Regions from separate parts of the Homo sapiens genome. Here regions 2 and 3 are each linked to region 1. The links come from fine-mapping of genetic effects on gene expression. A gene starts in region 1. Each other region holds a variant in brackets. All regions are shown on one strand. Distances are between the middles of the regions. Region 1 holds the start of TCF3 (transcription factor 3). Region 2 overlaps TCF3 (transcription factor 3). Region 3 overlaps TCF3 (transcription factor 3).

What was found. PIP is the estimated chance that this variant, and not a neighbour inherited with it, causes the effect.
Region 2: its variant is the best candidate, but not a certain one, in a credible set for the expression of TCF3 in whole blood (TOPMed, PIP 0.77).
Region 3: its variant is the best candidate, but not a certain one, in a credible set for the expression of TCF3 in left ventricle (GTEx, PIP 0.84).

What each region holds. Positions count from the first base shown.
Region 1 is chr19:1,651,157-1,653,989 of GRCh38, reverse strand. TCF3 (transcription factor 3) reads left to right here and starts at 1,375. Exons shown (of 19, transcript NM_003200.5): 1 at 1,375-1,690. RefSeq lists enhancers at 637-746, 867-916 and silencers at 1,207-1,256, 1,267-1,396, 1,927-2,006, 2,097-2,326, 2,134-2,356 and 1 more.
Region 2 is chr19:1,630,861-1,633,360 of GRCh38, reverse strand. TCF3 (transcription factor 3) reads left to right here. Exons shown (of 19, transcript NM_003200.5): 4 at 956-1,029; 5 at 1,245-1,323. Among named protein-coding and RNA genes, the nearest start is that of TCF3, 21 kb to the left of the region's middle. The variant TC/C (reference allele first, on the strand shown) is at 1,162.
Region 3 is chr19:1,622,797-1,625,296 of GRCh38, reverse strand. It overlaps TCF3 (transcription factor 3), which reads left to right. Exons shown (of 19, transcript NM_003200.5): 8 at 1,297-1,346. Among named protein-coding and RNA genes, the nearest start is that of UQCR11, 19 kb to the right of the region's middle. The variant G/A (reference allele first, on the strand shown) is at 1,033.

The DNA of each region.
Region 1 (2,833 bases):
AGCTTCCCGAGTAGCTGAGATTATAGGTGTATGCCACCACGCCCAGCTAATTTTTGTATTTTTATTTTATTTTACTTATTTATTTATTTATTTTGAGACGGAGTTTCGTCCTTGTTGCCCAGGCTGGAGTACAATGGCGTGCTCTCGGCTCATTGCAACCTCCGCCTTTCGGGTGAAAGCGATTCTGCTGCCTCAGCCTCCCGAGTAGCTAGGACTACAGGTGCCCGCCACCATGCCCGGCTAATTTTTGTATTTTTAGTAGAGATGGGGTTTCACCGTGTTGGCCAGAGAGGTCTCGAACTCCTGACTTCAGGTGATCTGCCCGCCTTGGCCTCCCAAAGTGCTGGGAATACAAGCGTGGGCCACCGCGTCCGGTCAACTTTTTAAATTATTATTTTAAATTATTTTAAATATTTTTAGAGACGGGTGTGGGTGGGGGGGGTTTCACTATGTTGTTCAGGCTGTTCTCGAACTCCTGGCCTCAAGCGATCTTCCCGCCTCGGCCTCCTTCAAAGCGCTGGGATCACAGGCAGGAGCCACGGCGCCCGATCCTAGGCGGGGTCACTTTTTACTAAAATGTAGACACGGACTACTAAGAATCAGGAAGCCAGATCTGGCCTGAGTTCTGTCCAAAGTCAGGTCCAAATTCACAGATGCCGAGACGGAGACTCAAGTCGGCAAAGGCACCGCTGAGACTCCCCGCGGGGCTCTCTGACCCAGAGCCGGAGCCAGAGTCGGTTTTCCCGCCGGGAAAATGGGTCTGACGTAGCCCCCTCGGGGCCGTGATACCCGCTCGCACCACTCAGCACGCGGGGCCGGCCCGAGGAACGCAAATATAACCAAGCAGAAGGCTCCGCGCGGGCGGCCACGCCAACCTGAGAACAAAACTCCAGGACCCACCCCGGCCGCCTCTCGCGGCCTCTCGCTCGCAGAGTCCCGCCTCTGCTGAGGGGCGGGGCCGAGAAGAAAGGAGGCGGGGCCTCACCACGAATGGCTAGGATCCCCGCCCATCAGACTTTCGCGGCTTCCGATTGACCAGACTGCTCTGCCTTAGCTTTCAATCTCACGGGCCTTACTCGCTTGCGTCATGGACTAAGCGCACAGCTCGTGTGTGCTTCCGCGGACGGGGATAGTCCGTGATTTCTCCCCGCGCCGTGGCCCGACCGCCTCCTCTGCGCGTCCCCGCTCCCAGGCTCTGGACCTCACGGGATTCGGGGTCCTCACGAGGGTGCTCGAGAGGCCGAGCTAGGGCGTTCGGGCCCGAGCCGCCCGGAGGTGGCGGAGGGATCCGCGTGGGCCGCCGGGCGGGGCACTCGGGGGCGGGGCAGGGGCGGGGCCTGCACGGGGCGGGGCGGGGCGGCGCGGGCGGGGGGCGGAACATGTCTCCCGCCGCAGGAAGATGAGGCAGCGGCGGCGGCTGCGGGCGTAGCGGGCCGGAGCCGACGCGGCGGCGGGCACCGCGGGCACCGCGCACGCCGCTGCCCCAGGGGCGCCCCGGCCGGCCGCGCGCACGGGCCCCGCGGGACGGGCCACGCGGGGGTGGGAGGGGCCCGGGCCACGCGCGCCGCCGCCGCCGCCCACGCGCGACCCTCGGGGGCCCGGCCGCGACGCACCTTTGTCCGGGGGGGGGCCCCCCCGCTTCATGCCGCCGCCCCCCCCCACGCGCCGCGTGCCCGGCCGCGCCCAGCAGGTGAGCCCGGCGGGGGGCGGGGGGCGCGCCCGGTACCCCCGTGCTTTGTGCCCAGGGAACCCCGGCCCGCCCCGCGCGCGCTTGTTGGGGGGGGGCGCGGAGGAAGTTGGGGCGGGGGCGGTGTCGGGGGGCGCCCCGCGGCCCGGGAGTCATTGTTCTCCAACTTCGCGCGGCGCCGGGGGGGCGGCGACGTGGAGGAGCCCGGAGCTCGCCAGGCCCGCGTCGCCCCCGTCGGGCCGGGCACTTCGGGAAACTTTAAGCAGCCCCGGGCGGGGGCGCGGGGGGCGCCGGACGGGCTGTGCAACTTAGGCGCGAGGACCGTCCCCCCCAGCCCGGGCGCACGGGGACCCCGGGGCGCCCCCTTTCTCGGGTAGAGGGGGGCCCGGCCCGGGCGCCGGAGTTTGGGGTGGGGAGCGCGCGGGAGGGACGTCCTTTTGTCTGCGCGGGGAAGGTGCCGCGCGCTGCAGGCGCTGGTCGGGGCCGGGCGGGCCGGGGGGGGGCGCGCGGGTAACATCTGCTCCGCGTTAATGCGGGGCGAGGCGGCGGCCGCGCTGCGAGCTTCAAAGGCTCCCGGGCCGCACCGCCTGCACCGGCTGCGGGGGGAGGGGGGTCCGGCTTCCCGGGCCGCCTCCCCCCGGGAAAAAGGCGTTCCAGCGCGCCCCCCGCCTTCGGCGCCGTGCAAAGTGGCTTCAAACATTCTCCAAGTCTCTCAAAGTCCTTGGGACGCCCCAGAAGTCTTCCAGCTCCCGTAGAATGCCCGTTTTAGCTCGCCACCCCCCCAACTAAGTCTGTCTTAAAATCGGTTTCAGCTACCCCACAAAAAAGTGCGGTTTCGTAGTCCTCAAAAAAAGTCAGTTTCACACGCCCTCCAAAAAAGAAAAAAACTGAGCGGGGGAGGGGCTGCGCTGGGGCGCCCGCTTCACACCCGGCCTCCAGTTGGCAGACAAAGAGGGGATTTCTCTGCTTCTGAAGTTGGGTCTCCCTCGACCTCGGAGGCTCCTCCCCACCCCCAGCCTCGGAGGTGTCTCCCGGGCTGCCCCCGTCCCCACCTGGGGACCCCTGGGGAAAGTCGAGACTGGAGGGGCCTGGAGTGCATTTCTTTGGAATGGAAATTTTTCTCTGTACCTTTTTCTGGGGGTGGAA
Region 2 (2,500 bases), 20 kb after region 1:
GGGAGTTGGACATGGACACCCCCAGCCCTGCAAAAGTAGGGCCTGTTTGTAAATCATTTATAGAGAGGGAAACCAAGGCAGGGCAGCAACTCCGTGGCCAAGCTGAGGAGGCCCAGGGCCCGCTCCTGCTTCTCCACGGGTGTGCTCTGTGGCCCCCGATGGAAGGGGGAAGGATCCAAGCAGGCCCTCCCTGCCCAGGGCAGAAGATTCTGGAGTCCTGGGCGTTGCCTGTGAGTGTTCTGAGAGATAAGGGCCCCGCCCGCCCCGCCCCGGGACCAAGGTCCTCGTCCCGTCCCTTGCTGCGCCGGGAACTCCTGCCCCACGCAGGCTTCTGGTCTCCACACTGGGCTTGTTCCTGGGTGATGAGATTCGGCTCCACCCTCACGGGCTGCCAGCCTCCTGCCCGATGGGTGAGCCTCTGCTGCTGCTTCAGCAAAGGGCGGCCCCACTTCCCACACTGGCAGGTGGGGACAGGGAGACCCTGGGCCTCCCCAGAGCTCATGGGTTAGCTTCCACACCCTCATGCTGTCATGAGCCTTTCTCACAGGGTCAGAAGAGTCTGCATCTGACACAGAGACCCCAGTCCACATAGTCAGGGCTGGGCCAGAGGGAGGGACTTGGGGCTGATGGGGAGGAGGCTCGGCGTGAGAGTGAGGTCTTTGCCCAAGGAGGGTATGAAAGCTGGGGCTTTAGTGGGTGGGTAGGAGTTGGCCAGCAGAGAGCCGACGGAAGAGTTAATTTAAGTTTATGGACCTGTAAGTGCTCCGAGTCCCAGGGTGTCTGGGTGTTAGCTGCTGACTGGTGTCCTCATGAGTCGGGCTGGGTGAGGCTGGGTTAGGAAGGGTTCCACAAGCCCCCCGGGTCCACTGAGGTTTGCCCCTGAGATGATGAACCGAAGCTTTTAGAGCTGGGCAGGCGTGAGGGTGACCCATAACTCTCTCTGTCCTGCCTGCAGGTCTTGAGGACCGGCCCAGCTCAGGCTCCTGGGGCAGCGGCGACCAGAGCAGCTCCTCCTTTGACCCCAGCCGGGTAGGAGTCCCCGTGAGGCCTGAGACCCTGAGTTTCCTGTCCCCAGAGTTGGGGGCGAGGGGTGTGGGGAAACTGAGGCTGAGAGAAGGGGCCAGCCTTCCAGGGGTTTGGACTGGGGGACATGGGTTTGAG[TC/C]CTGCCTCTCCAGCTGTAATGCGGGGTGGAGGGGGGGCCTGTGAAGCCCCAGCACCTCTCATCCCCACCCCATCTCCCCTAGACCTTCAGCGAGGGCACCCACTTCACTGAGTCGCACAGCAGCCTCTCTTCATCCACATTCCTGGGACCGGGACTCGGAGGTGAGTGCCTGGCCTGGTGCGGTCCCTCTGCTGTGCACAGATGTGCAGACGTGGGCCTTGGCATGGTCAGTGCACGCACAGCGCCAGGCAAGTCCCCAGCGTTCACCCAGAGGGTGTGGACAGCCGAAGCCTCTGCCCGTCCTGGGAGCAGCTGCGGGGAGGTGCAGGGGACGTGGCCCGGACTCCCTGGCACGGCACTCTGCAACTAGGCTTCCCCGCCTGAGCGTAGAGGCAGGGAGGCCGTTCCAGACCCCACTTCCTCCCTGGGATTTCTGCAGGGCTCCTCCTGCTTCCCGGGGAGGGGTCAGCCGGGCTGGCCTGTGCCCGCTGGGAAGGAGGCGTAGGAGTTCTGGAGACTCGGGAGGGCGGCCAGAGTGTGCGGTGGTCAGAGCCCATGCCCTTCCGCAGACCGCCCGCCCGCCCTCTTTCCCTGGGGGGCCCTCCTGTTAACCGAGAGAATCGTGACTCAGGTTGGGCTCGGTGGCTCACGCCTGTAATACCAGCACTTTGGGAGAGCGAGGTGGGTGGATCACCTGAGGTCAGGAGTTTGAGACCAGCCTGGCCAACATGGTGAAACCCCGCTTCTACCAAAAACACAAAAATTAGCCGGTCATGGTGTTGGATGCTTATAGTGCCAACTACTCAGGAGGCTGAGGCAGGAGAATTGCTTGAACCCAGGAGGTGGAGGCTGCAGTGAGCCGAGATCACGCCATTGCCCTCCAGCCTGGGTGATGGAGCGAGATTCCATCTTAAAAAAAAAAAAAGAATGAAGACTCAGGCCTGGTGTCTGGTCCCACCCCACCACGGAACCTGGGCAAGCGCCATCCTCTTCTGAGCCTCAGTTTCCCCACTGTGGGAAAGGGACCCTCCCAGAACCTTCTTGGAGGGAGGCGGTGAGGACTGACCCAGCTCTGCAGGCCCTGCCCAATGCCAGGTGGGGGTTGGTGCCTGGTCTTGGGTATATTCCAGCCCCGCTGCAGGCTCACCCGTGCTGCAGGGGAACGAACCGACGCTTGGGAAGGGCACCCTGGCCGGGGGTCTGCGGCTGGGTGGGGCTGACTGGGACGCCCTCCTCCAGGCACCTGGGGCTGCGACTGGGACAGTGTCCCGTGTGCGGTCCCTCCTGCGGGTGACACAGGAAATGCCCCGAGCTTCACATGCTCCGCCTCCTGCGGGA
Region 3 (2,500 bases), 29 kb after region 1:
GTCAGATGCCTCATGGGGCTGCATCGTGGCTCCTCTGCACTGAGCCCTGCTGCACACGCGGGCATCCCCCGCGAGGCACGTCACAGCCTCGGGCTCAGGAGCACTGGACGGCGCCTTGAACTACCCGGGGCCCATTCCAGGCAGCACAGTCGCCAGGCATGGCGGCACTCACCTGGGGTCCCAGCTTCTCTGGAGGCCGAGACAGGAGGATCACTTGAGGCCAAAAGTTGCAAACCATTCTGGGCAACATAGGGAGATCCCATCTTTGCGAAAAATTTTAAAAATTAGCTAAGTATGGTGGCACACACCTGTGGTCCCAGCTACTCAGGAGGCTGAGGCAGGAGGATGGTTTGACCCTGGGAGTTCGAGGCTGCAATGAGCTGCGATCGCACCATTGTACTCCAGCCTGAGCAACAGCGCAAGACCCTGCCTGAAAAAAATAAGCGTGAAATCACCCACAAAAAGCACAAAAACGTAAAAGATCGTGGCTCTGAATAGACCAAGGACAGGAGCCCCATGATGCGGGAGGAGGCCTCTGTTCCGCCTTGGCTGGGCACATGCGCCTGGGCCACTCGAACTTTTCCCACTGTGCGCACGTCCGTGAGTGATCAGGAAGGCGCCTGAGTGCTGGTTTCCGGGTTACGGATTTTATCCTGTAGGCGAGTTTGCAAACAGCAGCCCCTAGTGGTGAAGCCTGACTGCGTGGGATAGTCGGGGCCATCTTGGAAGGAGGGTGGGGCCAAGGGGCTTCTCAGCAGAGCCTTGGCTTAGAATCCACCAACTCCTCGTTTTCCAAACTGCGCGTCGCGGGAGAAAACCATCGTGGTTCTTCGACATCTTTGGAGCCGTATAAATAGACCCGGGGCTTTTTGTTGTTGTTGCTGCTGCTGCTGTTGTGTTTTGAGACGGAGTCTTTCTCTGTCCCCAGGCTGGAGTGCAGTGACACGATCTCGGCTCACTGCAGCCTCTGCCTCCCGGGTTCAAGTGATTCTCCTGCCTCGGCCTCCCGAGTAGCTGGAATTATAGGCACCC[G/A]CCACCACGCCCGGCTACTTTTTGTATTTTCAGTAGAGACGGGGTTTCACTGTGTTGGCCAGGATGGTCTTGATCTCTTGACCTCGTGATCTGCCTGCCTTGGCCTCCCAAAGTCCTGGTATTACAGGCATGAGGCACCGCACCCAGCCGACCCGAGGTTTTTAATATATGAAACGGGAATTGTGAGGGTCTCTCCTCCAGGGTGTAGGGCAGGGGTTGTTCTCATGGCCGGTGGCCGGTTCTCACCCCTTTTGCTTCTAACAGACACGCAGCCCAAGAAGGTCCGGAAGGTCCCGCCGGGTCTTCCATCCTCGGTGAGTCGCACGAGGGAGAAGGGACCCCACAGCTCGTCAGTGGCAGTGCCAGGCCCTGTGTCCTGGCGAAGCTTGGGAACACACATGGCGGGGTGGGCCCTGAGTGGACAGGCCCCCTGTGATTTCTGAGCCAAGATCTGAGCTCTGACCCGAGGCCGCCTCCAAGGGAAGGCGGGGAAGTCCTTCCCTAGGTCCAGCCTCTGTCTGTCTTGTTTTGAGAGAAAGGCAGTCCTGGTGGCTGAGGCCCCTTTAGAAAGGGCACAATTGTGCTGGGTGTGGTGGCTCATGCCTGTCATCCCAGCGCTTTGGGAGGCCGAGGTGGGTGGATCACCTGAGGTCAGGAGTTCTAGATCAGCCTAGTCAACATGGTGAAACCCCATCTCTACTAAAAATACAAAAATCAGCCGGGCGTGGTGGTGCGTGCCTGTAATCCCAGCTACTTGGGAGGCTGAGGCAGAAGAATCGTTTGAACCCAGGAGGCGGAGGTTGCAGTGAGCCAAGATCATGCCGCTGCCCTCCAGCCTGAGCAACAGAGTGAGACTCTGTCTCAAAAAAAAAAAAAAAAAAAGCGGGGGGTGCCGCAATTGGGGCTCCCTGTTACATCCTCACAGCTTCAGGCTGCCCCGCATCCCTGCCTCCCTACCAGGCCTCGCAGATGGTCCAGGCTGCTGTGCCACACTCCTGCGGTCTCATCTCGCTGGAGGGAGAGGGAATTTGCCGATTCCCTGGCTCAGTAGCCACCAACCACCCTCTGCCCAGTGCCTGTGCTGGCCCCAAGAGCCCTGGGCATACATCTCCTCACCCCTCCAGCCGACCAGCTCCCCACAGGCCTGGGTTCGGGGTTAGAGTCAGGTTGACTTCCCAGGCCAAAGGCGTGGTCAGGCTCTGCTCCCAACAGTATCACTCACTCCCCTCCTTCCCCAGGGTGCACTTTCTCTGCCCTGAAACCGCCCCCCAGTTTATTACAACATCAGGCCCACCCAGCATACTTCCCGCTCCAGCACAGCAGCAGACGTTACCAACAGGCCCCAGCCCCACAGTCCAGGCAGTGCCAACCAGTCAGAGCTGGCGCTACTCACAGACCCCTCTTCCTGTTACTTTAGTGAAGGACGAATGTTGCTCTGGGACCAAGGGAAGCTCAGCACTGGAAGATT